7 separate regions of the Homo sapiens genome follow, and regions 1, 2, 3, 5, 6 and 7 are each reported to be linked to region 4. Evidence: microRNA targets listed by miRTarBase, many of them from high-throughput screens and not tested one by one. Region 4 holds a microRNA gene; each other region holds the end of a gene's coding sequence.

Region 1 (4,067 bases), not on the chromosome of region 4:
CACAGGCGCCCTCTCCCCACCCCTCATCGGGTGTGTGTCTCTCCCTCACTGTGTCTGTCAGTCTCTGTCTCTGCAGAGGTGTGCCTCTCTGTCTGGTCCCCTCCCTGTGTACCTGTCTCACCTGTCTGTCTCTGTGTGTCTCTCCCTGTCTGTCTCTGTGTTTCTGTCTTTCTCTCCCCTCACTCCCCTGGGCCCCTTCCTCCTTCTCTCTGCAGAGACCCCTGGAGAAGCCCGACGGCCTGGACGTGTCCGACCAGAGCAAGGAGCACCCGCAGCACCTCTGCGAGAAGTGCAAGGTCCTGGGCTACTACTGCCGTCGCGTGCAGTGACGGGCTGCCCGCCCGCACCCAGAGCCACCCCCCGCCAGCCCGAGGAGACGCTGCTTCCCTGTGCTACTCCGAGGGGCTGCGTGTCGCCCTGTGCATGGGGTGCCCTCGCAGGCCTGCGGGGCTGGGCCGGGGGCTCTTAGCGTCCTTGTCTTGTGTGTGTTGACAAACAGTGTTACTGACATTGCTGCCCCCCACAGGCCAGGGAAAGCAGGGAGTCTGGGGCTTTTTGCAGGCGGGCCTGGGGTCTCAGTGGAGGGGACAAAGGCAAGCAAAAGCCCATGTCCAGGAGCCCTGGGTGTCCCCACAGGCTCGCCTCTGAGAGCCTCTTTGGGGTGAGCAGCCTTGTATTGGCCACAGGTGCACTAAATTGACTGTGAATCCCAAACCTCCCCAGACCAGCCAGGCCGCCTGCCCCCACCCAGAACCTTCCGGTTTGCCCTGTATGGAAAGCCACTCTCAGAAATCCCTCTTTCCTGAGTCAGCAATCGTGGCAAGGGGACATGTGTTCCAACAGCGGCTGGGGAGTGGACCTCTCTGTCCCTTGCCCACCTTAAGCCCCAAATCCAGACCCCCTCTGACATCACTGGCATTGCACCTGGGTGTGCCCCCCTCCCCACGCTATGGACCCAGATAGGAGGGGTTAGGCATGGGGGAGGCACAGAATGCTGGAGAGATGCGTCCTGGTGAACGTGGGGCAGCCCCTCCCACGACCCCCACCAGACTGCCTTAGGTTTTGTCAGCCCCACTCCCTTTCCTTCCCCTCTGCCTCCCACCCACTCTGGGGGTCCACATCAAGATAGCTGGGCCCAGTGTGGAAGCCCAGCGTGTCTGTTCCAGCAGAAAGGACACAAGCCTGGTGTTCTGGAGACCTCGGCTCAAGTCTTTGCCCTGCTGCCGACGCATTGTGTCACCTTGGGCAAGGACTTCGCATCTCCAGGCCTCAGTTTCCCCATTAGTTAAATGACAGCATAACACTAGAGAGCAGAGGGCCCATTTCAGCTCTGTTGTTCTGGGATTCAGGCTGGCCGGTGCTGTGTCCTGGAGCTTTATTTGGGGAGTTTCACCCAGAATGGTGGGAGAAACCTCCCAGGTGCCAGGTACCCCGCATCGTGACCCTTCACTTGGTGTCTTAGGAAGTCAAGCTGAGGGATGCTGAGTCCTCCCCTGCTGGCCCCTGCAGCCCCAGCCCTGCTTTTCATCCCCCACCCCTGCAAACATGGAGGAGCCCCCTCCTTCTCACCTCGGTCTCCTAGCCCCTGACATGGAGAACCCTGAGACAAGCCACAGAACCCCTCTTTTCTAAAATGGAGACAATAATTTCCTACCTCCCAAGGGAGCAGAGAGGCCTCGTGGCACGTCCGTGGCCAGGGAGCCCACTGTCCTGGCTGGCGGCGGGATCGTGCGCTCCTCTGTCTCCCGGATGAGAAGCCCCGTTTCCATGGTCTTGACCCTTCCTTTCTCCCGGCTGTCAGAACTGGGTCTCTTGATTTTGCCCCTACATTATGCCTCTGTGGGAAAAAAAAAAAATCAGACCAAGAAATGAGCCTGAAATTCAGTGTTTACCATGGCTCAAGGATGCCCATCTGGTGTCCAGTTGCCTTTTGTATTCAAATGAAAATGCTTTGTACAACTGAGGAGTTACAGTGAAGTGTTAACCAGGGGTCCAGGGAGCGAGTTGAAAAGATGGAGTGAGTGTATTTGCAGCCAGGGAGCTGCAGGGTGGATTTGAGGGGCCATACCCTCTGAGCACTTAAAAAAGGTATTTGCTCCAGGCCAGGCAGCAGGCTGTGGACACCCTTGCCACCACTGGGGACTGCCACTGAGGACTCCCCGAGCACGTTGTTCCCCGTCTTCTCCAAGGTGTTGAGGTGAGCTGGGGTTGGCCCCGGCCCAGGCTTCTGTCCCAAGGAGAAGCTGCCACTGACAGTCATCCTACCGCACTGCTAAAGAGAATGTTCGCAGTGGTGGGCGGCGTGCCTGTGCCAACCCTTCCAGGGACCCGGCCATGGGGGACCTTGGCCCAAGGATGCCTGGGGCCTGCCAGCTGTGCTGCAAAGGTGGGGGGCCCACACCCTAAAACTAACCCAGGCCCCAGACCACTGGAGGCCAGGGCTTCCCTGCACGGGCTAAGGGGAGTTGGGATATCACCCCAAAGTGACCTTGCCAGTGAGCTGTTCAGCAGGTAGCCACTGCCCTGCCATCTGTGCAGAGCCAGCCACCTTGGGGGCTGGGGTTCCCGCTTTGAGGCCCACCTTCCATACTCCCCTTGACTCGGCTCTGGCTGAACTGGGGAACTCTCTTGTGGTCAGCAAAGCCCCTGCCATGCAGGCCAGGTGCCATTGAGAATTAAGTGCTCAGAGGGCCAGGAGCCCAGGGGATGGGAAAGTGTGTGGTTTTAGTACGTTCAAAAGGGACAATCGCTTGCAGTTGGTAGATCTAGCGATCTAGTTGGGAGATAATGGTGTTTACCCCATATGAAGTATTCAATAGTTCTACTTGTGAATTTGTATTTATTTTGAGTTATACTTGACACAGAATTCCTTTTTTAAAAAAATATGTGTGTATTTTGGAAAAAAAATTCATAGATGTTAAAATTTCTGCATGGTTACCAGTTTTTCTCACAACACTGAATTTGGTAGCTTTTCCCGAAAAAATCTTCACAGTAATTTTTTGTCTGTATATATTTGAGGGCCTTTTTTTAAAAAAAAAAAAAGAAAAGAAAAATATAATTGTTTGATTTTTGAGATTAAAACAAACAAAAAGAGAGGCATTTTCAAAATTTCAGAACTTTCAGGAGGGCAAGAGAATATCAAACAAAGATTTCTGGAAGTATTTTGCCAACCTTCTGGTTGAGCTGCAAGAAAATATTTATGGTGAGAACTTTTCTGTTTCCCGTTATTGGGTTTTTGGTTGGTTTTTGTTTGTTTTTTACTATGCTTTGGTCTGTAAAAATATGCAACTGAACTACATTCAGAAGGAAATATTGTCTACATAGAATATTATATGAAGTTGGTACATAATTCTGATGAGGAAAAAAAATCTTTGCAATTCTTTAAGCCATATTGTTGTTTTTCTGTGTTGTTTTCCCTGGATGAAAATATCAGTATTAAGTAGACAGCATATTATTCAAGTGTTTAGACTTATTAATATGTTCTTGTCCTGTATTTATACATATGTGTATTTTGGAAAGTATTGCCTTTTTTAAGGGAAGCTATAATTCGATACATAGTGAAAAAGGGAATGGTGACCCCTTTGTGCCTCTTCCACTGAGGATAACAAACAGCATTGTAATCCATTCTCTTGCACCTTCTTCTTCTTATCTTGTTATTACGGTTTTATTAATTTTGTAGAGGGACAGGGAGTGGGCAAGGGGAAGAAGCAGCTTATTTGACTAACCAGCCCCTCTGTGGTCCACCAGCGTCTTGGCTTGGTGGGAGGGCTCTCAATCAGCAGGGCCCCAGGAGGGAAGAAGAAGTGGGGCAAAGCCTGGCCTCGCCGCTCGGGAGCTTTGCCATCTGAGCCACGCCTCCTCCAGGCCATGCTCCTTGAACTTGGAAATGTCAACCGGAGCCCTTACACCAGCCCTCCAGCATCTAATAGACTTGAATCTACTCTAAACGAATATTTAATCCAACCTCACTACATTGTAGCTCAGTCCAACGACTAACCCTGAAATGGGGGTGTTCCAGCCTTCAGCGAGATGGCCAAGCGGTCCCCTGGGGGCTGTGGCAGCGGGCT
Region 2 (4,067 bases), not on the chromosome of region 4:
GGTATAATATCTATCTATTTGCTGTAGCTTAAGATTCATTAAATAAAATATCTGTATTTTTGGCAAATATTCACACAAACCAAGAAAAAAAGATTCCCAGATTTTTATTTCTGGAACTGTACACCAGGTATTAAAGTACAACAAATACAAAATAATGCTCAAAAAAATCAGTGTTTATGTACAAATATTAAAATCAATGCAATAGCAACTTCCTCTTGAACATCTGATACTGAAACTTGTTCTGATTGTCACTAATTTATCTCATACTCACAGGGTACTTATTTCAAACTGGGACAATTGGAATCACTGGTCATCTAAGAGGAATATTAATATCTACCATATTTAACAATAAAACTAATAGTTTCCTCCATTTAGTGAAAAAATTAGGAACTTTTTAAAAAACATAGTAACGTCAATATTTTATAAATTATTTCAATTTCCATTTGTAGACAATGTGCTTTGAAACTCTGGGCAAACAATCTCCTTGGTGGTCAGGTTTATTTGTTAGTTTACATTCAAAGTTGAAATATTCACTAGAGACTTTGGTTAAATTAAATAGTATCACTATGCTCTATTAGATCTGATGTTCTCAAATATTTATGAGCCTCAACATTTTAAAAATTAAAAAGGAAATGATTGCACAATTCTTTGATCTAATTGTACAAATTTTAGTATTTTTTAAACAGTATTCTACATCCTTCAAGTAAATTCAGCAGCTGACCATGACAAGAGGAAAACTAAACATTTAAAAAGCTAGCATGAAAAAGATGAAGTACAACTAACAAATGTATTGCTATAATCACAGCACCAGTTACACTTCTAAATGAATCCACTGTCCTTTTCAAATTCCCTGTACATAAAAGATATATCAGCCAACACTGCAACTGCTCACCATGAATTTTTGGTTTGTTCATAAGAAAATAATGGGGCAAAGGAAAAAAAAACAAAAAGAATTTATCACAGTTTGTTATAAGAATTGTGCTTAACACTTGATAATAAAGGCATTATTGTTTCTTCACATGATTGCAAATCCGGTTGTTTTCTTGCTTCCAAATGCAATTCTTTTAATAAACAGTAACAAATTCTCTGTTAAGATGTTTAAACTGAGAGAAAAAAAAAACCCAGTAAATCCAGCTTTTAAAAGAAAATTCAATAAATAGCTATTTTACATGGATAAAGTCATAGTGGTACAATTTATGAATGTCACATCAAGCATGCACAAAAATGGTATTATACATGGCAGAAGTAGTCAGAAAATATTGAATTAGATCTAAAAAGATATGAAGAATTTACACTTATATACAAAAATCTTGCAAATTATTGCCTCATTTTAACAAGGAATTAAAAGTAAACATTACCAGCTAGTTAGCACTCTCTAAGAGGCTAAAATCAGATTGACATTTAAAAATCTATTAAACTAGCTGGAATTTATTTTTCTCTCATACCATTTTCTGGATTTTGGTCAAAAATCTTTATTTAAATAACTAAAGTGTCCATTCAACTTGCTGATAATCAAAACTTTAGATAAGAAACACTGTTTCCATCTTATATCAAGACCCCAGCAATGCATAGATAAACTGAATATATTACTGCATCAGCTACTGAGAATGGGCATGTTCATTTAAGTGCAACTGGTATTAGCATTCAGTCATCTTTGTGTAAATTATTTATACAGACCAGCCACTGTAAACCCAGAGTGAAAATTAAGGTTATAACAATGGAAGATTATGGCCAGTATCTTACTAAATTATAGAAAGTGTACTGATTTTTAATAAAAGAAATAAGGTTCAAAGTTTAGCACAACAACACAGCAATAAGAAGCTGACAACTTGGATAAAAATACAAGAAAGTAACACAGAGCCCAGGCTACCCATTATTTACTGTGTGCATACAGGAATGCTATACTTCAGATGTATAAATTAGAGACTGATTTTAAGTTATTAATTTAACTACTTTTTGTCCACTGTGCTAAACTAAATTTTATACTAATGTGCTACTGCGTAAACACTTCAAAGCAATCTTCATTAAAATGCTGCAAAGAAAAACAAGAATACACATCATCCAAAACTAAGGATGTCATTGCAGTTCACAGTTTGTATAATAAATACCCTCCCTTTCAATCACTACTAAGATCACTACATCCTATCTACTCATCAGCACAACCTTGAAGCAACTTATACTTACAAATATTAGCAATGCAGCCAAACATTTGTTTTTTGCAAAGCAACTAGTAAAAATCAAGAATTTTAATTAAGACGGTGCAAACAACATAATTCTCTATTTTAACAGTACTACAAAAGCAAAGATTACATCCTAATACTGTATTACATATTGTTTGATTCACCTTATAACTTAAAAATGCATGTTTATAGCACAAAAATGGCCAAAGTTTAGGACAATGGCTTCTCATTCACAATATTTGGAATAAAAATAAAACTGAGTTTGAGATACATCTGAACATCTATCAATTTTTAAAACTTAAAAGTGGTAATGTACCATTCTATTTCAGATAGGAACTCACATTATTCTTGCCAACTGTTCAAGCTTAACAAAAAAGCTTAAATATACTTCAAGGTTCTACTGCATTAGGTATAAAATCTAGAAGTCCCTCTAAATATTAACACTTTGAACTGCAGTGCTACAAACAACTTAAAAGATGTCCCAAAATGTAAACCATTGAGTGGCAACATCCTAGGCTTTGTAGACTGTGCCTCTGCAAGTCGACTGCCTCAGGATAAACTAAATTATCAATGACTGGTATGATTTTTAAGATTACAATCTTGACAATGGTGGACAAAACCCCATCTGAGTACCACATCTTCAAATGCCAAAACTGTAGCCAATAAATGAAGTTACACAGAAATCTCCTGGCAGTAACATGACCAATTCTGTGTAAGGTAGCCCTGGTCTAGAATTTTGAAACAGGATCCAAGCAAGCGTCTTCATTATTTGCACACAGTTCCTTGTGCTGGCTTCCATAAAGATGGACTTGCTGTTTTGTAAACTGAAGTGCTCTAGTTGAATAACATGAGAGAAGTTTCCATTTTTAAAAAATCCTTGCATGTTTGTGCAGTTTAAAGAAACCTACCCCTGCTTTTATTAAGAAAATAAAACCAAAAAAATGCTACATTGAGCAGGGATCGGGATCGGTACCTGTAAACATTGTTATTCCACTGCATCCATTACGGCAAAAGGAATTTACACAAAAACAGGCCACACCATTCAGTTCAGAACATCTGTGCTGGTTTTGAGCTGGTGGCCTCTGTCTACAGGTTTTAAAATTGGGAGTGAGGGCAGTGGGGAACACAAAAGAATAGAAAAAGAAGGGAGTGGGGAAGAGGTATTGGGAGATGAGGAAGAGAGAAGCAGAGCTTAAAGCTGCACCACAGAGTTCAATCTTAGTTCCCAACTCTGCTGATCATAGTTCATTTCCACATTTATGGATTGAAAAATGAAAATACTCTTGATAAATCAAGATATAGTTCTATACATACTGACATCACTGATGTCATAGTGAGAAAGGTTCAAACTTCCAGTGAAAGACTATGCAAACCTGATAGCTCCCCTCAAGTTTACTGGTGCTGCACACGCAGTTCCGGGATCCTCACTCAGGTCACTCAGAGTGTAGGGCCGCGTGCTGATGCAGAGCATGGGCACTGATGAAACCATTGGTCTCGTTGGCAGAGAGACTGCCAAAGTCAGCCACAGAAACAGCCATTTTGGCACTGGTGATGTGATGTGTGTGATTTTCAAAGTCCACACCCAGGTTATTTACAGAAACTTCATTCATAAAGGATTCAGGGACGGCAATGCCCATTTTCAATCTTTTTGCTGGTCTCTCTGACTCTTCACTGCACATGTTCATAGGGTTTAGCTCCGAGTGATAAAATCCAGTCTCAAATAAATTAAAACAATCACTTTCCCCATTGCTGGGCAGGGTGAGTAACTCTTCTGTTACAACAGGCACATGATTAACTTGTCCACGGGGTGTGTTGCCCAGTGGAGGAAAGCTATCATCCAAACAATTCACATCTGTGGGGTCGCAGACGGTTGCTACACTGTTGGTC
Region 3 (4,067 bases), not on the chromosome of region 4:
TGGTTCTGGGAATTTGGTGTATAGCCTTTGACCCTGAAGATTAGGTGCCAAGCTACATTTAGCATGTGACTAGATTGACCTGTGGCAGAATAACCACAGGCAACCCTAATGCCCCTCCCCTTGTGGGTTTCCCGTTTCCTATTAGCTTATTTTTTTCATTCAATGTGTTCTGAATAATATTCTACCTAAAAGTAAAATATTAATAAATATTTTTCCTCATCTTTTTTTCTCCTGCCTTTTTTTTTTTTTTTTTCAGTTATCCCCAAGCTAAACTGCGTGTTCACTGTGGAAACCGATGGCTTTATTTCCTACATTTACGGGAGCAAATTCCAGCTTCGGTCAAGTGAACGGTCTGCGAAGAAGTTCAAAGCGAAGGGAACGATTGACCTGTGAATTCTTTGCCGTCTAAGGCAGTTGTTTATGACAGCTGAAAACTGGACACTCCCTAAATGTCCACCTTTCAGTGAAGAGATAGTTAAGCCAATTCCATTTATAGACCACCTCCAGCCAGTGACGCTCCGAGTTGAGGATGTTGAACAACATGGGAAGGTCGCAGCGTACTAAGTGAAGAAGTCAGAGGACAGAGGAATTTCTCTTTCTAGGAGATTTTCATTTTGTGTGACTCCCATGGGGAGGAACAGACTGGCAGGAAGCACACCGGGGTTAACACTGGTTGACTTGAATAGGATTATTCGATTTTTAAAAATACTTTTCCATGTTTTCTGAGTGCTCTATGATAAATCAGTTGCATCTGTGATAATACAGTACATATGTGGACATAAACAGGGATCAAATAAAGGAGGTATTGCTGCAGTCCAGCCAGGTTGAAAGGGAAGGGGGGTCCCCAAAGGTCCATTGGATGGCAGGTGTCTACAGAGGCTCGCCTTTGGGTGGAACTCTGACCCACCTAAGGTTTACTTTGCTATTTCAGGAAGGTTGAAGAGGATTGAAGGGTGAGTTGCTAAGTGACTTAGGGTTTATTCACTTCAGGAATCATAGCTGGGGTGGACCCCAGGAGCAGAGTACTGCATGCAGCTGTGCCCATGCATGGTTGCCCCAGCGTAGTGAGATGGGACCTGCCGCAGCATGCCCACTCCTGAGCTGCCAGGCTGAGCCATGGAGGACTGAAAGGAGGTCGCCCGGCATCACCTCCCGAGGTGAGACCTGCTGCAAAAGCCAAGCCAGCAGCATTGACGCCCTTTGATATCTTCGCCATTTTTGCTGCTGAAAGACTTGGCTTTTCAGTCTGACCCTGGCCCTCTGTGACCATGTGTCTGTAAAGCCAGTGGGTCAGGCCCTTCCATGCAGGGCCAGAGGAAAAGCGGGCCCAGGGCTGCAGTGAGAGCGGGGCAGGGGACCAGCCTACCAGATGGGTTGGAAACATGGCTCAGAAGGACCAACTACCCCTTCCCTTTGAGGAGCAAGTCTCTGCCGATCAGCAAGGCAAGGCCAGGAGCCCTCCTGGCGAAAGGCAGGCCACAAATCTGTTCTCCCCCAGGAGAAGTAGCAGTGCCAGGGCTTTGCGTTTCTGGTAACTTCCACCCAAACCACACCAGAGAGAAACACCGTAGTGGAGAAGGGAAGTGGGAGCGCTGACTGCTGTGTGCCAGGAGAGTAGAAAGGCCCAGGTCTGTGCCACCACCCCTCCCCAAAGCTCAGTGCACCCAGAGTCTCACAGGGACCAACACGGTGCCTCGGTCCTGCTTCCATCCATGCAAGTGTCCTCCGCTCACCAGGGTGTTCTGAGGCAGCTCAAGTGCTCTCCCCCAAGCAGCACGCAGTCACCGCTGCCAGTGATGAACACACGCACGGGCTAGGCACATGGAGCCCAAGCACACTGCCACCTCGGACACGGGCCCCGGCCCAGCGACTGCCTTGTGGTGTGGCCGTCCTCATCTGCCACAGGAAGACAGACTTCGAGGGACCTCTTGCCTAAGGCCTCGCTGACTCAAGGGTAGATTGAGATTTGGACCTAATAGGCTCCAGAACTGTGCTTTGAGCTACAGGGTGGCTGCAGGATGAGACGGATGCAGTTCAAAGTGCAGGATGTGCTGCCTTTATTACCTGCTTTCCCGCTGAGCAAATCCCTGTCTTGAGTGGGAAGTGGCATCTATTCCCCCAGCCATCTGAAAATGCTGTGTTCATAACCAAATAGGTGCTGTAGCTTCCTAGCCATCCCGCTCTTACCCGCCCCTCTGCAATGTAAAAGGCGTCCACTGTTGTGTAAATACACAGTTGCTTTCCAGAAAAGTTGTAGGTACCACTTGCCATGTGAAATCTGTTTTTCATTTAGCTCAGACTCAAGTTTCTGTGTGAGTGGCGGTTTAATTTGTAGATACCTCTCCCTCTCCCCCAAGGAGACATGGTGAGGGTGCTCACCGGCCACTAAGCTGCCGCTGTGCCTGCCTGTTTCTAGGATACACTGTTGCCCTCATGGCCCACCCAGGGGTCATATCTCCCAGGTAGAGGAGGGAAAGGGGAGGGCCCAGCTGGGCGGGACATGGTTCCTGATGAGGAACAGCTGCAGAAAGCATGATCTGAGGCCCAGGGGCCGTGGCAGGGGCCAGGGCTGCCATGTCTCCACAGGCTGCGGCACAGCTTGTCATGGAGGGTAATGTGGTGCTTTTTGGCCCGATCTCTCCCATGTCCACTGTCCAAGGAGCAGGACCCTGGCAGAGCTGAGGCCTTGGCCATGTGGTCCCACGGGAGACAGAGCCACATTCGACTTGTGTAAGCCTCCATGCACCAGAGAAAGTGCCAAAGAGGAGAGAGTGGTTAGCAACTCAGGACAGGACCCAGAGGCTGCAGGACTGGGAGACATCAGCCCAGCGACCCACTGCTCAAAGAGTGGGGCCCAGGGGCCCTTTACATCTTCCCAGTGCCCAGCTGCCACACAGGGTCTGCAGAGGATAGGCCAGAGCCTCGGGGGAAAGGATGAGGTTCTTGGAGGAGAAAGGACAGCGAAAGGACAGCGTGGGCCATGGCTGATGTATCCATCTGCTCTAATCTTCATAACAAAATGCCACACACTGGGGCTGCAGCATTTTCTCACAGCTCTTGAGGCTGGAAGCCAAAGATCAAGGTGCTGGCAGGGCTGGTTTCTGGAGAGGCCTCTCCCTTCTTGTCCTCACATGGCCTTTCCTCCCTGTGTGCAAGGAAAGTGATCCCTCGGGTCTTTTCCTTGTAGAAGGACGCCAGTCCTATTGGATCAGGCCGTGTTCTTATGAACTCGTGAAAGTCTCCAGACAGTCACAGTGGGGGCAAGGGCTTTATCATATGAATTTGGAGACCCAAGTCAGTCCACAGCCACCCCGAAGCTTTCCCAGCCAGGACAGCCTGGTTGTGCCTCCCAGAAAGACTCCAACAGCTACCTGACTCCCAACCTCAGACACTAGCCAGGCCTTCTCTTTCCCCCATATGGGCTGCTTGGACCACTAGCCAGTCCAGCCAGCCCCAATGCTGGCCCCTGAGCTGCCATCACCACTGGATTCTGTGACATGCTCATACAGGAACTTGGGTCCAGGGCTGCTCCCTCCAGTACCCGGGGCCCCTGAGCTGCCCAGTTCCCCTTCACTTTTGCAAACAGCTGAACTCCTCCTCCCGCTGGGGCCAGGCACAGTCTGGATGGGGGAGGAAATGCGTGTGCAGGTGGGCAGGATGGGCAGAGAAGTCTCCCTGGAGCAGGGGCTCCGGCTCTAGGCAGCTGTGGGTGTGAAGAGTGTATTCACACCAAGGCTCAGGGCAGGAGCCCGCAGAAGCATTGTGGAGGACCCAGGAAGGCAGGGGAAGCCTGCGAGGGTCTGCCCCCTGGGCTCAGGCAGGCAGGAGGAGAGGCCGGAAGGGGTATATGGCTGCCAGGAGTGGAGAGATGGCAGAGATGCTGGAAAAGCCCTAATCCATGGGGCAGGAGGTGGAGTTCTGCTGATCCATTCACGCAGTTCTGAAGTCTTGGGGACCTTGGTGCCGCCATCTGTCAAGTGGGGCCATTAGACTAGACCCAGCGTTCCTGGAATGGCATCCTGGAACTTCCCATATCAGAGTTAGTGGGTGCACATTCAGAGCAGCCA
Region 4 (4,067 bases):
ATGTAGAAAAGTCTCTTTGCTGAAAAAAGGGAGGTCTTTAGCTTGAATAGGAAAATGGGTGAGATAAACATGACAAGTCAATACCAAGAAACCAGTTTCGCTAAAATTTGCTCTGTTCCCTCAAAGTTATTTTTTTGGCTTCATTATTACCTTTATTGACAAAGTAACTTTTCATTAACAAGCATGACAAATATTTCAGTTACACAGCCAACTGTGTCAAGTCGTTTCATATAATGAAAAAGCAGGGATATAGATTGTGTTGTTTATTCCTCACAAATTATTCTTTAGAGGGAAGACCCTCTAAAAGGCGGAGAAAGCTTTAAACATGTTTACTTGACAGCACCTGAAAAATGATGTCATTACAGTCTAAAGTGAACTGATCATCAATTTGGTATTTGTGTTTTGGAAGGCCTTTCCCTTGACTGTTTGAGGCAGTAGAAAGTTTGCATGATTGGGCTGAACAGATTGTAGCACCCACAGAAGGAAATAAGATGTTCTTGATATACAGTCATGTGTTGCATAATGACACTTTGGTCAATGACAGACCACAAATACAATGGTGGTCCCATAAGGTAGTAATAGAGCTGAAAAAGTCCTATCACCTAGTGACATCTTGATGATTCTGACCCTGTGCAGGCCTAGTTTAATGAGTGTGTTTGTGTCTTCATTTTTAAGAAAAAAGTTTAAAAAATACAAAGATAAAAAATTTTAAAGACAGAAAAAAGCTCATAGAATAAGCAAATGAAGAAAATATTTTTGTATAGCTGCATAATGTGCTTATGTTTTAAGCTAAGTATTATTGCAAAATAGTCTAAAAGTTTTAAAACGTTAAAAAGTTTACAAAGTAAAAAAGTTACAGTCAGCTAAGGTTAATTTAGTTTTGAAGAAATAAAATTTAAAAAATAAATTTAGTATAGCCTAATTATACAGTGTTTATAAAGTTTACAGTAGTATACAAAAATATTCTAGCACTCACTCAGTGACTCACCCAGAGCAACTTCCAGTCCTGCAAGCACCATTCATGGTAAGTGCCCTATTAAGGTGTACTATTTGTATCTTTTATACTATGTTTTTATTGTGTCTTTTCTATGTTTAGATACACAAATACTTACCATCGTGTTACAGTTGCCTACAGTATTCACTACCACATAGTAACATGCTATACAGGTTTGTAGCCTACAAGCAATAGGCTATACTATATAGCCTAGGTGTGTAGTAGGTTATACCTTCTAGGTTTGTATAAGTACACTCTATGATGTTCATGACAAAATCACCTAATGATTCATTTCTGAGGATATAGTAACCCCATCGTTAAGCAATGCATGACAGTATATGTAACCTGTCCAGGGGAATCTTTGCTTCCTTTTCAAGTCACATGGTTTGGACCCAGAACTATTAGTCTTTGAGAGTATATTTCACTCCTTCCTAATTCCAGAGCTGCTTGGATGAAGTTCTACTATGACCTTTAACATACAGTGTTTTTCATCTCTCTTATGGGACAGTTATGGGCCCAATGATGGAAAATTTCATGTCATGGTTATCCCAATGCATTTGATGATGGTGCAATGATCAAAAAAGATGCCAGTGATGACAATTGAACGTCCCTTTGCCTTCCCAGCCTCCTTCATATATTCTCAGGCATAGGATGACAAAGGGAAGTCCACGAGTCACATGAAGAAAGACTGTAGCCATGGGTACGCGATCAGGAAGTCCTCTGCTTGCCTCCACCCCCACCCTCCTTTCCATCACCCTGTCCTATGGGTACATGATCAGGAGGTCCTCTGCTTGCCTCCACCCCCACCCTCCTCTCCATCACCCTGTCCTATGGGTACATGATCAGGAGGTCCTCTGCTTGCCTCCACCCTCACCCTCCTCTCCATCACCCTGTCCTGTGGGTAAATGATCAGGAGGCCCTCTGCTTGCCTCCAACCCCACCCTCCTCTCCATCACCCTGTCCTATGGATACACGATCAGGAGGTCCTCTTCTTGCCTCCAACCCCACCCTCCTCTCCATCGCCCTGTTCTATGGGTACATGATCAGGAGGTCCTCTGCTTGCCTCCATCCCCACGCTCCTCTCCAGCACCCTGTTGTATTTCTTCCTAATATTGTTTCTCCACCATCTTGCAACTAACCACCATCTTCTTCCCAAAGTTTTGCTTGATGACTCATTCCAACTGAATCAATGCTCAACCTATATTTGGCACAGAGTTGGTGCTCAAATAGTTGCTGAATGGAATAATGACCCTCAAACTCTCCAAGGTAACCAAACTTTAGGGGAGCCTTTTTAAAAAAATGAGATAATGCTTCCATGTGTAGGATGAAAGGAGAAAGTATTTTGGAATTATGTCAGCCTAGGTTTGCACCCAGCTGTGCCACTAATTGGATTTAAGGCAAAGGCTTAACCTCTTGGAGGTGCCATTTCATCAACTGTATAAAAGGAAGAAAATAATCCCTATCTTGAAGGGTTTTTGTGAGTATTAAAAGAGATAGTATATATGAAAATGCCTAGCATGGTGCTTGGAACCTAAATAAATGCTCATTCCCTCCTAGTAGTATCCCAATAGTGCCGTCAAGCTGTCCTATATGGTATCTTTAGGATGATAAATAATAGGGAGTAACTAATTTCTGATGTGGTTGAATGTCAGAAGAGATAGAGATAAAACAACAGTCATAGGGAGTGATACTGTTAGGAAATTATAAAGGAAATGAAGACTTCTGTGGTTAATTTCTTGGAGTTTAAGAAGAAATTCACATTTTCCATTAATTATACTTACCAACTGAGTCTAACTGGCAACTACCCCAAAATGAATAAAACAAGCGGGAGTCAAGAGAGAAAAACGGCAGGCATCCTGTCAAAAAATAAAATCTTTGAAATTTCTACACCCTGTGGTTGCATACACATTTTATTAAAGCAGATGGATTACCCAATTTACATAAATTTATATACGTGATGGCAACTCAAGTTGCACAGTGAAACCTATGTAGAGCATCATCCAGCCCTTCTGCACCAGCTATATCTTGTCTTATCACTCCTTCAACTGGACAGGTCCTTAAAAATCATAGCTCTTTGCTGGAGGAAGTATCATTCTTTATTCTCTTCCAGCCTAGATAGCTTCTGTGGTGTGGAAAGGGTCAAATGAGTTAATATCTGTTAAGTGCTTGTACTGATGCTTAGAACTTAGTAAAACCTCAAGAAATCTTAGTTGTTGTTATATTAATTATAATGATAATTATGAATCTTCCAATTCTGTGTTTTCCAGGAGACGATAGGAATTGAATTCTTTCCTTCCCTCCTTTTAATAACATTTTCCTGATTTCTAGAGAAATAAGTGTTCTAGTTTCAAGTGTTTAGCTACTTTTGACTTAAAAGAACTATCCATTTAGAGGCTAATCTACCCAGTTTCTTTTCTTTTCTTTTTAAAAGAGGAATTGAAACAAAGCTAACATGTTACTCAACATGCATAATATTATTAATTGGACTGATTCCTCTTTCTCTCTCTGGCCAAGGTATAGATATAAATATATCTACATCTATGACTATGTCTACATATCTTCCAAAAAAGTCATCAAAACCATTTCAGTATAATTGGCAGGTTTCCTACCAATTTGGTTATTGTTTCCCAAACTAGGAGATAAACTTAATGGTAATATCATATTTCTGGAGTTGCTAAGCAAGCTAGCCTTTGGTCAGATGGTCTCAGAGGAGGACCCCATGAGTATGAACAGCTCTGCTCTGCCTTCATTTTGTTCCTTCCTTAGAGACAGCATTAAGGGAAGATCCCAAATCCTCAAGTTAGATCTCTAGACCCTAGCTTCCTAGGATCAAGCTAGACTTTGAGAGCAGCCTCACTTGTGGCAAATATTGGGAAGTAGGAGTTTGGCAGCTGGTAGCTGGCTGGTGAGAGGCATGTAGGAACTCACCCACTTTTCATGAAACATCAACATCACTTGGTTATATGTCAGCACCCATACCCTGGCAAAGCTGCCTTCTCATAAGAATGTACTCACTGGGGAAAATGCAAAGCAATATCACTTGAAGCACAGCCTCTAAGGGTTGGTTCCTCTG
Region 5 (4,067 bases), not on the chromosome of region 4:
AAGGCCAGTTCTGCTTTTAGTGATGCATAATCTAGTTCCCGTGAAGTGGTTTGTCTCCTGTTGGGCACCTGGGAGGAAGACGAAGGGATGGAGAATCGGGGACGTCTGTCCCTGTTGGGCAGCTTTAGCTGGCATGGAGTGATGTCTGGGCAGGGGCCCCAGGCCCAGCTGCTGTGGTTGTCCATGGCTGAGGGACCAGCTGCAGGAGGGGCAGAGTCCAGGTCCCCCCAGGAGAAGCTCCAGGGCAGAGGTGGTCGGTGCCATCCCTTTTCTTGGGCTCCCCCAGAGGAGGGATGGATGTAGGGCTGGAGAGTCAGGGACAGGGAGACGAAACGGCACCTAGGAGTGTCCGTGAGAGTCCGTGATCGGGCAGGCACAGAGGCACTCAGATCCCCGGCCTAGGGATGGGCCCCCAGACCACCTGGCGACCCCTCCACTCTCATCCTCTGTTTTTCTCTGAAGGACACTCTGGGTGGTGGGTTTGATGCCACCCAGGCATTTGTGGGTGAGCTGGCCCACTTCAACATCTGGGACCGCAAGCTGACCCCCGGGGAGGTGTACAACCTGGCCACCTGCAGCACCAAGGCTCTGTCCGGCAATGTCATCGCCTGGGCTGAATCCCACATCGAGATCTACGGAGGGGCCACCAAGTGGACCTTCGAGGCCTGTCGCCAGATCAACTGAGCACGGCAGGCCAGGCTGAGCCCGCCCGCCCTCGCCCCCTGCTTGTGCGGCGATGATCTGTTTTGTGCGTCTCTTCTCTCCCTTTTCCCCAGGAATGAACCGAGGCCGTCGCCCCTGCACACGCACACGCACACAGCCTGGTTTTGTCCTCATGCACACGAAGCAGCCCCTGCTCCCATCTGTCCCTGAGGAAGCCCCACTTCTCTGTAGGAGCCCGGACTCTCTCAGGCATGCCCCATTCACAGCTGAAGTGGGTGCTGCAACGTCTTGAACAAGGCAGAAGTTGGTGAGAGGATCTGTGTGTGCGTGTCTACATGTGTGTGTCTACGTGTGTGCGTGCGTGGCTGGGGGAGGCCTTTTCTTTGAGGACGTACCTCATTTCCTTCTTTCTTCTGGCTTTGGAAAAATCTCATGATGAAAATTCATATTTGCCAACTTTGTTAGCTGCGTGCGTGCTTTGGGGTTGGTGCAACCTCAGTACACGCATTTGTCTTTGTTTGCAAACCTTTCTCAGAGCGACATATCTTTATATTGATGTAATAAATGTCTTTTAGTGGTTTGTCAAAGGCCGGGGGCGGGGGCTCTCTACAGAGAATTTTTATTTTGTAATAGAAGTGAACTGTCTCTGAAGGGTGAAGGCAGGCCGTCCTGGGATGGTACCCTGTGCTCTCCCGTGGAGGAGAGGGGATGGCTGAGGACACTGGCCCTTACCCCAGGGCCAGACAGCATCCATCCCTGCTGTTTGCATCTGAGAGCAGCATGGGGCCTGGGAGGTCGGCCTGTGTGCCCAGCTCAGCTAGCTCTGCCCCAGGACGGCCCTGCCCTCGACCTTCCCACCTCCTCAGATCCTGCAAGGCTGGGGTCTGCCCCTCCCTTCTCACCTCTGGAGCTGTGCTGCACTGCTTCAGCCCAGAGGGCCCTGAGAGAGGAGCGTGCCACCCACAGCCCGGGAAGCCGGGCCCCAGCACCCCTCTCCTTTGGCCTCCGGCAGTGCAGACCAGAGGGGACCTTTTAAGGAAAGAAGCCGTGTTTCGATGAAGACCTGGCCACATGGGGCCACTGGGACTTCAACCCAGCCCATCGGTGGGAAGGTCCTTTTTGGGGGACTTTGACAGCCATATCCCTCCCAGCACACCAGGCGCCAGGTGAGCTGGTTCAGACCCCTCCAGGGGTACTCCAGAGACCTCACGTGTGGAGCCAGGCCTGGCCAGGGCAGGGGCCTGAAACCCACTCCTCCATCTCATGGGGCTCACGGCCTACAGCAGCCCACAAGCTGCCACTGGCCGGCGACACTGACACCTGAGCAGTGTCCAGAACCTTTTTGCCTTTTTTTGTTCCCCGTGAAAAGCAACATGGACATTTCCTTCTAGTCCTTCCAAGGAGGGGAGAGAAGTGTATGTGCATTTGTGTGTGTGTGTGTGTGTTGTGTGTGTGTGTGCGCTAAGTGAGAAAGAGAGCAGGCTCGGGAGGCCCTGCCCAGGGTAGGAGGAGCTTCCTGCTTTGCACCATCTGGTGGTCGCACGCCCTGAGGGCACCCCGACTCTGTCTCCAGGAGTCTCATCAGCAAACCGCTGACAAGTCTTTCTAGAAATTCTACTGCACTGCCTGGCTCAGCTGCAGCTGCAGACATTTCTGCAGGAGGAGCAGGTGTTTCTGTCTTCTGTTCCTTCTAGGGCCACCTGTCCCCTTAAACACAGGTCCACGTTGTGTCAAGAACCTAGTGCATCTGTGTGTGTCTGTCAGTGTCTCTGTGTCAGTGTTCTCGTGGGTGTCTGCACGGTACCCGGCCGCCGTTCTGCAATGCATCACTCCCGCAGAGGGGGGTGCAGATCAGGCGCCGTGCTGCGCGTTGTTGTTCAACAGTGGCTTTTTCTTAGATAATCGTGCTTCCTCAGCGCCCGTCGGGTTGTGGCATCCTTGGATCTGCAGGGATCTTCTCCGTTTGCATGTTCCTCGGGGTGGCGTGTTCCTTGCTCCCTGGGTCCGACATGTGTTCCCGCACCTGCATGGACTGCCCCGGTTCTGTGTTGTGTGCCGAGTGCCGCCCAGTGTTCTGTGACCACCCGTGTAGCTACTGAAAATGGCTGGGTAAGCAAGTCAAGGGTGTTGGAGGAGGTCAAGAGAGAGCTCAGTTTCCCTCTCCCCCTCCCCAAACACACCAAGAAGCATTTTTAACGTGTAGGTTGAGAACAAGCCTAAAGGATTCCCACAGCTGGGAGCCAGCAAGAGAGCTTGGAGTCGCCTCTCTAGACCAGATCTAGCCCCACCCTCACTCCAGCCATCTCGGAGCCCTTGTGTAGGCAACGCCCGGTGCGGGCTGTGTGGGGTGCTCCCCTGCCAGCACCTCCGGCCAGCCCCGCCCCTGCCGATCTACTGGACCGCAGACCACCTTCTGCCCCCGTGGGCCAGGTGGGAGCTGTCCGTTCAGGACCATGAGCCATCCTCTGCCCTGACTAGCGAGGGGCAGAGCACACCCCAGTGCTTACGCCTCCACCCCTGCAGCCTCCTGGCCCGCTCACCTTCCTCACCCCTCCTCTGACCCACCCATGGTGCCAGGGCCGAAGCTGACCTTTAGCTCCCTCCTGCCCCTTGCTAGGGTCTGAGCCAAGCCCCTCGACTCCCTCACTGTGTTGACACTTGGCACTTTGCTGGCCCCGAGAAAGGTCGATGACACAGCCGCAAATCTAATCCACGTAGTTCCCATTTACTCCTTAATCTGATTGATGTTCCCTCTTGCACTGAATAATACATGCCTCTCTCAGGTAAGCCATTTTATAAAACAAGAAGATAAAAAGCACTGTTGAGGCAGTGTTTGCTTTTGCCGAGCTGGTGTCCGACAGCTCCCTGGGTGTCCGGGGTGGGAGAGCTGTTGACAGAAGCTCTCCGGGCCCTCAGGGGCTTAGATCCCACTTGAGTCGTAAGCCTTCTTGCTTTTGATAACACAGTATTATTTCTCTTACTGTAGAAGAAAAAGTTTATTACCAAACAAGAGTATTTTTATGAAAGAAAAGGACAAACCTATAAATTAACTCAACCTATATCTCCCTTGAAAATACTTTCAGGCTCCACCAAAACGTAGAACTGAAAGCATGTATTTTGGAAGAAAGAGATACATTTTGTATGCTTTCTTTTCCTTTTGTAGATTCCCAGTTTATTTTCTAAGACTGCAAAGATCACTTTGTCACCAGCCCTGGGACCTGAGACCAAGGGGGTGTCTTGTGGGCAGTGAGGGGGTGAGGAGAGGCTGGCATGAGGTTCAGTCATTCCAGTGAGCTCCAAAGAGGGGCCACCTGTTCTCAAAAGCATGTTGGGGACCAGGAGGTAAAACTGGCCATTTATGGTGAACCTGTGTCTTGGAGCTGACTTACTAAGTGGAATGAGCC
Region 6 (4,067 bases), not on the chromosome of region 4:
AACATTAAAAAATGACACACTATTAATACAGTGAAAAAACTGCGTTCAAGTAACTAAGCAGCACAGGGGCATCACCAGATACTGCACCAGCTGTTAGACAACAGCCACAACCAAGAACAGCCACGGCAAGTTTCCTGTCCCCACTGGCGGTACTGTTGGAGTAAAGATTACTGGACACTATTTTTTTCAGTGAGAAGAAACATGAGAAGCAGTTGAGAGGCTAGGAAGTGGATCCTGTGGAGACGAGGCATTCTTCTCAGTGGCTTTTTAAAGTATTTCTTCCAGAGTCATCTACCTCATGAACAATGTTTTTGTCTGAGAAACCTCTCTTTGCTTTTATAAACTGACGTGATTTCTTGTTCTGTTTTGAATACACACTGCTCTAGTCCTTCAAGAAGCCCATCACGTATTTTCACCATATAATCTGTAGGCACTTTTTCTGCAATGTTAATGTCTTCACTATTAGGATCACCTTTGATTCAGAACCGTTCAGCTATTTCACCATGGGTTGATGAACAACTGGAGACCCATCATCGATGTTAAAAACTTCAACATCCACTTCTTCCAGCTTACTGACGGACTCTGAAGGTATATTTTTTACATATATAAGGAGGTCAGACATCATTTTTTTTTCTCACTTGACATAGGGATTCCTTCCAAGTCACCACCTTGTTTATCATCATCACTGAACATAGTTGCAGGCCAGAGGTTGTGCTGGACATTCAGAACTGTGTCTTTAGTCACCGTGTTCTAGTTGTTGGCAACAGCATATGGCATCCTTCATGCTAAACTTGTTTTGGAAACCTTCTGTGCCATGCCCTGTTCACTGCTGCTAACATGCTATTCCAATAAAGTTTTTATATTTACTCATTGATGTAAGGATACTCTGGTCACTGGCTGAATTAATGAAGTCACATTTTGGGGAAAGTACATGGCATAAATATTTTGGGGGGTGATGAGAAAATTTGTAAGCACCATTGCTGACCCTTGTTCACTAGAGTACAGTGAGCTGTCTTATTTTTGTTTTAATTACATGACCATTAGCAGTTTGACAGTTCATTGAGTAAGTATCGAGTCTTCGCTAAAAGCTGAGTACTGAAGATAGGATTCATTAATTCATTCAACTAAATGCAATGTTTCTGCTTTGTACCAGGCACTGTACTAAGTACTCTTTATACCAGGAGGGAATAAACATGTTCCTGTACCCCTGGAGCTTATAGTCTAATGGGGGACAGTGAAATTTAAGAAGCAAGCACAAAGGAAAATGCAATCATCATTGTGATAAATGCTGTAAATGAAAGCATGGTAAAAGAGTAAAGGGAAACCTAGTTTTCATTAGACGTTTAGGAATAGCCTCTCAGAAAAAGTGGTATTTGTGCTGAAGTCAAGGATAAAGAGTGCTGCCAGAGATAAGGCAGGTGGGGGTAGGAATGGGGCTGGAGGTGGGGAAATGAGAGGCGTTGCTAAGGACCTGAAGAGGTGAGGGCTGATGAACGTGGTTCCTGTGCTCCTGAATACTATAGTGATGGACGTACAAACACATGTATGTTACATTATGACAGGAATGATAATAGAGGCTTGGGTAAGTGCTGACTTGGTTTATTGGATCATGAGCACTGGGAAGGCTTCCTCAAGTAGGAGATACTTAAGCTAGGCCTTAAGGACAAGTAAGTATTTGTAGGGGTGTAGGAAGAATGTTTTTATATAGTAAATGTTCAGAAAAAAGGCTTATAAGCTCTTGATGTTACTAAATTTATTTAGGCAGCTATAATGTAGGTACTGCAAATTATTTCTGGAACCTTAAGCCCAATGAACATAAACAATTGAAATATAGAAATAACATTCAGAAAATTTTAGATTTTTAGCTTTGCTGTTTTACAACATTTTAATGTGATAAATACCCTTGTTATCCTGTTTTTTAAAGATTGGCACATATAGAAAATAGCTTTTGAAAGTCTTGGGTTTTTCTAGGTATTGTTTTTTAATTAATGAATAATGTAAACATAGGAAAATAGGAGGGTATAATGAATTGCCATGTACCTGTCACCTAAATATAACAGTAAACATCTCCCCGTTGCTTTTGGTTGAAGTAATTTTAAAACATATAAATATGCATTTCTTTTTTTAAAAATGAGGACATTTCTGTATACAGGTTGAGCATCACTAATCCAAAAATTCAAAATCCAGAATGCTCCGAGATCCAAAACTTTTTGAGCCAGTAACGTAACACCACAAGTGGAAAATTCCATACCTGACCTCATGTGATGAGTTGCAGTCAAAATGCAGTCAAAATTGTGTTTCATGCACAAAGTTATTTAAAATATTGTGTGAAATTACCTTCAGGCCAGGTGTTCAAAGTGTGTATGAGACATAAATGAATTTTGTGGTTAGACTTGCATCCCATCCCCAAGATGTCTCATTATTATAGGCAAAATTCCAAAATCCAAAAAAATGTGAAAGCCAAAACACTTCTGATCTTAATCATTTTGGATAAGGGGTACTCAGCCTTTATACTATAAAACCATTATCAGACCTACCAAAATTAACAATAATCCGATTCTTCTACATACTCCTCCCAATTATCTCTGACAAAGTTTACATGTGTTTAGCTGAAACATGCCTCTATTCTCTTAATCTATAACAGTTCCCTCAAAAATATTTTTCTTTTATAACATTTTCCTGTTGAAAATTGGGCCATTCTGTGCCCGCTGACCCACTTTTTGGATTTGTCCTAGTGTTCCCTGCAAGCTGAGAATTAGATCTAAAGACTTGATTGCATTCAGGTTATGTATTTATTCTTTAAAGAAATACAATAAAAAGGTCCTGTCCTTTAGGCGCGATGGCTCATGCCTGTAATCGCAGCACTTTAGGAGGCTGAGGCAGGCAGATCACTTGAGTCCATGAGTTCGGGACCAGCCTGGGCAATATGGAAAACCCCCATCTCTACTAAAAATACAAAAATTAGCTTGGCATAGTGGCACGCACCTGTAGTCCCAGCTACTAGGGAGGCTGAGATGGGAGAATCACCTGAGCCCAGGAGGTTGAGGCTGCAGTAAGCTGAGATAGCACCACTGTACTACTGTACTCCAGCCTTTTTTGAGACCCTGTCTCAAAAAAAAAAAAAAAAAGTCCTGTACTTTTATTTTCAGGATGACTTCCGTTCCTTCTCATCCTCCTTCCCTTCTCCTTTCTCTACACACAGTGAAGAGGTAAAAAATTTGAATAGTACAACACAAAACTAATTGAAAATTCTCTCCACCTTTCCCAAATCAACCACTGATATGAGAGTGTTATGCATTTACAACGTGCTTTCTACGTGAAGGGTTGATTTTTTAAATCATCTCAAAGATGACTTTGAAAACAAGTGTACTTCTCAAATTAATTCAAACTACTGATACTTACATTTTATTCCCATTAAACTACACAATTTGACTTCTTCGCTTAGAGACTCCACACAGACAGCCAAGGAAACCGATGACTATCTGACTGAGCCCAAACAGGACCTCCAGAATTCCAACAAGCAATAGACCTAAAAATACTGAGAAGTGGATAAGCCTATGTTTGTTTTCTTCAGAATCGAAGTGGAAACTAGATGCTCTCCAGCCACTCGCCATGGTGTCGTTACTGGTGGGTTTATTGAAACCAGTAGGAGGTGCACAAGAGTCATTGAAAAACCACTGCAAGTTGAAGGATTCTGGATGAATGTCACTGAAAAACAAAAGATAAAAATCAGATATTCAGAAATATCCCTGACCAAAGGAAAGTAGCATTGTGCACATAAAAGAATGAGTGAAACGAATGTACTTTTGAAATATCGTGCCCAGAAATGACAGAGATCAGGGTTTCTGAGCATGTGTCCATATACTCTACTAGTTACAAAACTTTTATTACTTATATAGCCCATCATTTAACAAGCATCTCTATGGTACATCTTCTCTTAGGTTGAACGGTATGAAACTGCTGTTTTGGGATGTCAGAAATAGTTGAATGTCAACAGTTTTTCGTGGTTCAACCTATTTATTTTATTTATTCAGATACTCTTCTACTTGCTAGATATAAAAACTAAG
Region 7 (4,067 bases), not on the chromosome of region 4:
TGAAGGATGTCCAGATATGGGTAATTTTGAGTTGACATAATATGGATATAGAAAAAGTTTTCTCCAAAATCTGTATCTCTAAACTAAATGCATTTTCCCTTTCCTTTTTCATCTCTCTCGTCTCCTCTTCTCCCTCTCTGCCTCTGCTCCTCTCCGCCTCTCAGGAACAGTATAAATTTGTATACGAGGTGGCACTGGAATATTTAAGCTCCTTTTAGCTCAATGGGATGGGGAACCTGCCGGAGTCCAGAGGCTGCTGTGACCAAGCCCCCTTTTGTGTGAATGGCAGTAACTGGGCTCAGGAGCTCTGAGGTGGCACCCTGCCTGACTCCAAGGAGAAGACTGGTGGCCCTGTGTTCCACGGGGGGCTCTGCACCTTCTGAGGGGTCTCCTGTTGCCGTGGGAGATGCTGCTCCAAAAGGCCCAGGCTTCCTTTTCAACCTAACCAGCCACAGCCAAGGGCCCAAGCAGAAGTACACCCACAAGCAAGGCCTTGGATTTCTGGCTCCCAGACCACCTGCTTTTGTTCTGAGTTTGTGGATCTCTTGGCAAGCCAACTGTGCAGGTGCTGGGGAGTGGGAGGCTCCCCTGCCCTCCTTCTCCTTAGGAGTGGAGGAGATGTGTGTTCTGCTCCTCTACGTCATGGAAAAGATTGAGGCTCTTGGGGGTCACTGCTCTGCTGCCCCCTGCAACCTCCTTCAGGGGCCTCTGGCACCAGACATTTGCAGTCTGGACCAGTGTGACCTTACGATGTTCCCTAGGCCACAAGAGAGGCCCCCCATCCTCACACCTAACCTGCATGGGGCTTCGCCCACAACCATTCTGTACCCCTTCCCCAGCCTGGGCCTTGACCGTCCAGCATTCACTGGCCGGCCAGCTGTGTCCACAGCAGTTTTTGATAAAGGTGTTCTTTGCTTTTTTGTGTGGTCAGTGGGAGGGGGTGGAACTGCAGGGAACTTCTCTGCTCCTCCTTGTCTTTGTAAAAAGGGACCACCTCCCTGGGGCAGGGCTTGGGCTGACCTGTAGGATGTAACCCCTGTGTTTCTTTGGTGGTAGCTTTCTTTGGAAGAGACAAACAAGATAAGATTTGATTATTTTCCAAAGTGTATGTGAAAAGAAACTTTCTTTTGGAGGGTGTAAAATCTTAGTCTCTTATGTCAAAAAGAAGGGGGCGGGGGAGTTTGAGTATGTACCTCTAAGACAAATCTCTCGGGCCTTTTATTTTTTCCTGGCAATGTCCTTAAAAGCTCCCACCCTGGGACAGCATGCCACTGAGCAAGGAGAGATGGGTGAGCCTGAAGATGGTCCCTTTGGTTTCTGGGGCAAATAGAGCACCAGCTTTGTGCATAATTTGGATGTCCAAATTTGAACTCCTTCCTAAAGAAACCCAGCAGCCACCTTGAAAAAGGCCATTGTGGAGCCCATTATACTTTGATTTAAAATAGGCCAAGAGAATCAGGCCTGGAGATCTAGGGTCTTGTCCAAAGTGTGAGTGAGTCAATGAGAGGGAACCAACATTTGCTAAGTCTCTACTGTATGCCAGGGATCATGCTTGGCACTTTCCATAGGACATTTCACACAGTCCTTAGAACCCCCAGGAGAGAGCTACTGACTTGTTATCATCTCCATTTGATCATCTCCTCCAATGAGGAAACCCACGCACCTTCCTTAGTAATGAAATCCTGGGTTCCAAAGGGGCAGGTAATGGCAATGAGACTTCTCCGTGCTGTTTTCTTCATCTTCTCTAAGCCAAGCAATTATTTTATGGAGGGAAAATAAGGCCAGAAACTTCTGAGCAGATAACTCCACAAATGGAAATTTAGTACTTTCTTCCTGATGCCAGTTCTTCTGGGAAGCGCAGAATTTCAGATATATTTTAGTAACACATTCCCAGCTCCCCAGGAAAGCCAGTCTCATCTAATTTCTTAGTCAGTAAAAACAATTCCCTGTTCCTTCAGGCTATGAATGGACCAGCCAGGGAAACTCTCGACCTTGATCTCTAGCCAGTGCTTAGGCCCAATATCTGACAGCCTCAGGTGGGCTGGGACCTAGGAAGCTCCATCTTGAAGGCTGGTCTAGCCCCAGACAGGGCATGAGGGGCAGAGAATTCAAGAAGGTACAGCTTTGGCCCTCAAGAGCCCACTGTATGCTGGGGAAATGGAACCATGGTGCAGTAGTGTGGAGTGGATGAGTGTTCCATGAGCCTAGGAGCAAGAAAGTCTCTTCGGCCTCGGGCTTCCTGGAGAAGGGGACGTCCATTCCTGCTGGGTCTTAACAAGCATAAAAAGGAAAAAAAGGAAACTCAGGCAAAGGGATCCATATGTGCAATGGCAAAGAAATGTGAAAAGGCATTGGGAGAAGCAGTCTGGGGGAGGCCAGCCCAGTGCGGGCACAGCACAACACGGGGAGCAGCAAGAGATGAGCCAGGGTCCAGGAGACAGATGCCCATCGCGAGTACAGACTTTGTCCTATTGGCAACAAGGAGTCCATGGAGCTTTAGAGAGATGCACTCAGCTTCGTGTTGGCCAAGACTCCTTCTGGGCCAATGGGGCTGCCTCTTTTCCTTTCATCAGACACTGTGAAAACATTCCCTTAAGCGTGCACTTTTTAATATCACATCTATTTGTCTGTCTGCTCATTGTTTTGTTGCTGGAACTAAATATGCAATGGATCATGAGACTCAGATTCTATGAGAAACCCAGGGTCTCTGCTTTACCACGGAGCAGGGTCACCAACCCAGATCTCCAGGCCCATGAGGATGGAACATGAAAGGAGCCGACAAAAGTTGCTTCCATTGGCATGGGCTCTGGAGCTGTCCAGAAGTCCAGGGACACCAGACTTGATCAAGGAAGGGCTGTCACTTTAGAGGTTCAAAAGGAAGTGCCTCAAAGCAAAGGCAAGCAAAGGAACCCCACGATGAACTTGCTCTTTTCCTTTGATGAGCCTCTCCCCAGGTGTATTTCAGCAGACCCCGGGGACCCACCCCCACTGGGCCTGCTGGCCTCCCTCGGCTCCAGCCCAATGCCCCAGCTGGCCTTCCCCAGCCTGCAAGGAGCCTGTAGCATGGCAAATCTGCCTGCTGTATGCTATTTTCTTAGATCTTGGTACATCCAGACAGGATGAGGGTGGAGGGAGAGCTATTTAACACAAATCCTAAGATTTTTTTCTGCTCAGGAAGGGGTGAAATAGCTGGCAGATACAAAAGACAGTGGCTTTTATCATTTTAAATGGTAGGAATTTAAGGTGTGACTTCAGGGAGAAACAAACTTGCAAAAAAAAAAAATCTCAGGCCATGTTGGGGTAACCCAGCAAGGGCCAGTGATGATTTCCCCCAGCTCATCCCCTTATTTTCCCACAACCCAACCATTCTCTAAAGCAGGACAGTGAATAGGTCTTAGGCCAGTGCACACAGGAAGAAATTGAGGCTTATGGATGGGGATGACTTCCCTAAGATCCCATGGGACAAGGATGTGGCAAGGCTTGGATGAGATGGGGCACCAGTGCCCAGGAATTTGAACATTTTCCTTTACCCAGGAAATCTCCGGAGCCAACACCACCACCCCCAGGGGGTCTCCCCACCCCACCCCATTTACAGGGTGAGCTCAGCCTGTCATGAGCAGAGGAAAATATTATTAATGCTCTCTGAGTCTTTACAACAGGAGCTCTTACCTCATAGATGTGGGCTCTGTTTGGGGAAGATGCAAGGAAGTAATGAGAAGCCCAGGAAATTTCTCCACCTGTGTTTATGGCCTAAATAGCTTCAGGATGTATCTTAGCTGCACTCCAACATTGCATCCTTTCTGGGGTGAAGAATCTGGGCCAACCAGGGGTCCTTGGGCCTCTAGAAGGCCACAGTAGGCCTCTCTTTGTGGGAATGGAAGGGGACAGTTTGCTTTTAGTGCTGGCCCTCTCTGTGGGTGTGGCCTGCAAAGGAACCAACAGACCCTATGCTGGGGACTCTAACATGTGAGCTCATTAAATTCTTCCAGCATTCTAAAGGAGGGTTTGTGATTGTCACCATTTACTGATGAGGAAACTAAGGCTCCTAGGGGAGAAATCACTTGCCC

Evidence for each region. The annotated mature microRNA hsa-miR-204-5p reads UUCCCUUUGUCAUCCUAUGCCU and lies in region 4 at 1,637-1,658, opposite strand. An mRNA with a match to its seed (bases 2 to 7 or 8) in the 3' UTR can be bound and repressed. Matches are read on the target gene's strand: a 7mer-m8 pairs with bases 2 to 8, a 7mer-A1 pairs with bases 2 to 7 and ends in A, and an 8mer does both.
Region 1: the mRNA of ZCCHC24 is a reported target of hsa-miR-204-5p. Seed matches in the 3' UTR shown: 7mer-m8 at 2,737-2,743, 7mer-A1 at 3,533-3,539 and 8mer at 3,563-3,570.
Region 2: miRTarBase lists MIER3 as a target of hsa-miR-204-5p. Seed matches in the 3' UTR shown: 7mer-m8 at 2,111-2,117.
Region 3: miRTarBase lists POP4 as a target of hsa-miR-204-5p. Seed matches in the 3' UTR shown: 8mer at 828-835 and 7mer-A1 at 1,577-1,583.
Region 5: the mRNA of NPTX1 is a reported target of hsa-miR-204-5p. The part of its 3' UTR that is shown has no 7-base or 8-base seed match.
Region 6: the mRNA of TM4SF20 is a reported target of hsa-miR-204-5p. Seed matches in the 3' UTR shown: 7mer-A1 at 3,177-3,183.
Region 7: the mRNA of PTPRT is a reported target of hsa-miR-204-5p. Seed matches in the 3' UTR shown: 7mer-m8 at 984-990 and 7mer-m8 at 2,309-2,315.

What each region holds. Positions count from the first base shown.
Region 1 is chr10:79,382,607-79,386,673 of GRCh38, reverse strand. It overlaps ZCCHC24 (zinc finger CCHC-type containing 24), which reads left to right. Exons shown (of 4, transcript NM_153367.4): 4 at 216-4,067. The coding sequence ends at 329. Among named protein-coding and RNA genes, the nearest start is that of PPIF, 37 kb to the right of the region's middle. RefSeq lists an enhancer at 1-611.
Region 2 is chr5:56,919,515-56,923,581 of GRCh38, forward strand. MIER3 (MIER family member 3) reads right to left here. Exons shown (of 13, transcript NM_001297599.2): 13 at 89-4,067. The coding sequence ends at 3,614. It also overlaps a transcript of SETD9 not described here. Among named protein-coding and RNA genes, the nearest start is that of SETD9, 12 kb to the left of the region's middle.
Region 3 is chr19:29,614,988-29,619,054 of GRCh38, forward strand. It overlaps POP4 (POP4 ribonuclease P/MRP subunit), which reads left to right. Exons shown (of 7, transcript NM_006627.3): 7 at 257-2,250. The coding sequence ends at 393. Among named protein-coding and RNA genes, the nearest start is that of POP4, 11 kb to the left of the region's middle.
Region 4 is chr9:70,808,395-70,812,461 of GRCh38, forward strand. MIR204 (microRNA 204) reads right to left here and starts at 1,690; the gene lies at 1,581-1,690. All of the region lies in intron 6 of TRPM3 (transient receptor potential cation channel subfamily M member 3), which reads right to left.
Region 5 is chr17:80,467,430-80,471,496 of GRCh38, reverse strand. NPTX1 (neuronal pentraxin 1) reads left to right here. Exons shown (of 5, transcript NM_002522.4): 5 at 463-4,067. The coding sequence ends at 684. Among named protein-coding and RNA genes, the nearest start is that of NPTX1, 7.1 kb to the left of the region's middle. RefSeq lists an enhancer at 2,848-3,572.
Region 6 is chr2:227,360,305-227,364,371 of GRCh38, forward strand. TM4SF20 (transmembrane 4 L six family member 20) reads right to left here. Exons shown (of 4, transcript NM_024795.4): 4 at 1,734-3,708. The coding sequence ends at 3,420. Among named protein-coding and RNA genes, the nearest start is that of TM4SF20, 17 kb to the right of the region's middle.
Region 7 is chr20:42,077,030-42,081,096 of GRCh38, reverse strand. PTPRT (protein tyrosine phosphatase receptor type T) reads left to right here. Exons shown (of 31, transcript NM_007050.6): 31 at 165-4,067. The coding sequence ends at 218. All of the region lies in intron 2 of LOC101927182 (a long non-coding RNA gene), which reads right to left. Among named protein-coding and RNA genes, the nearest start is that of CHD6, 460 kb to the right of the region's middle.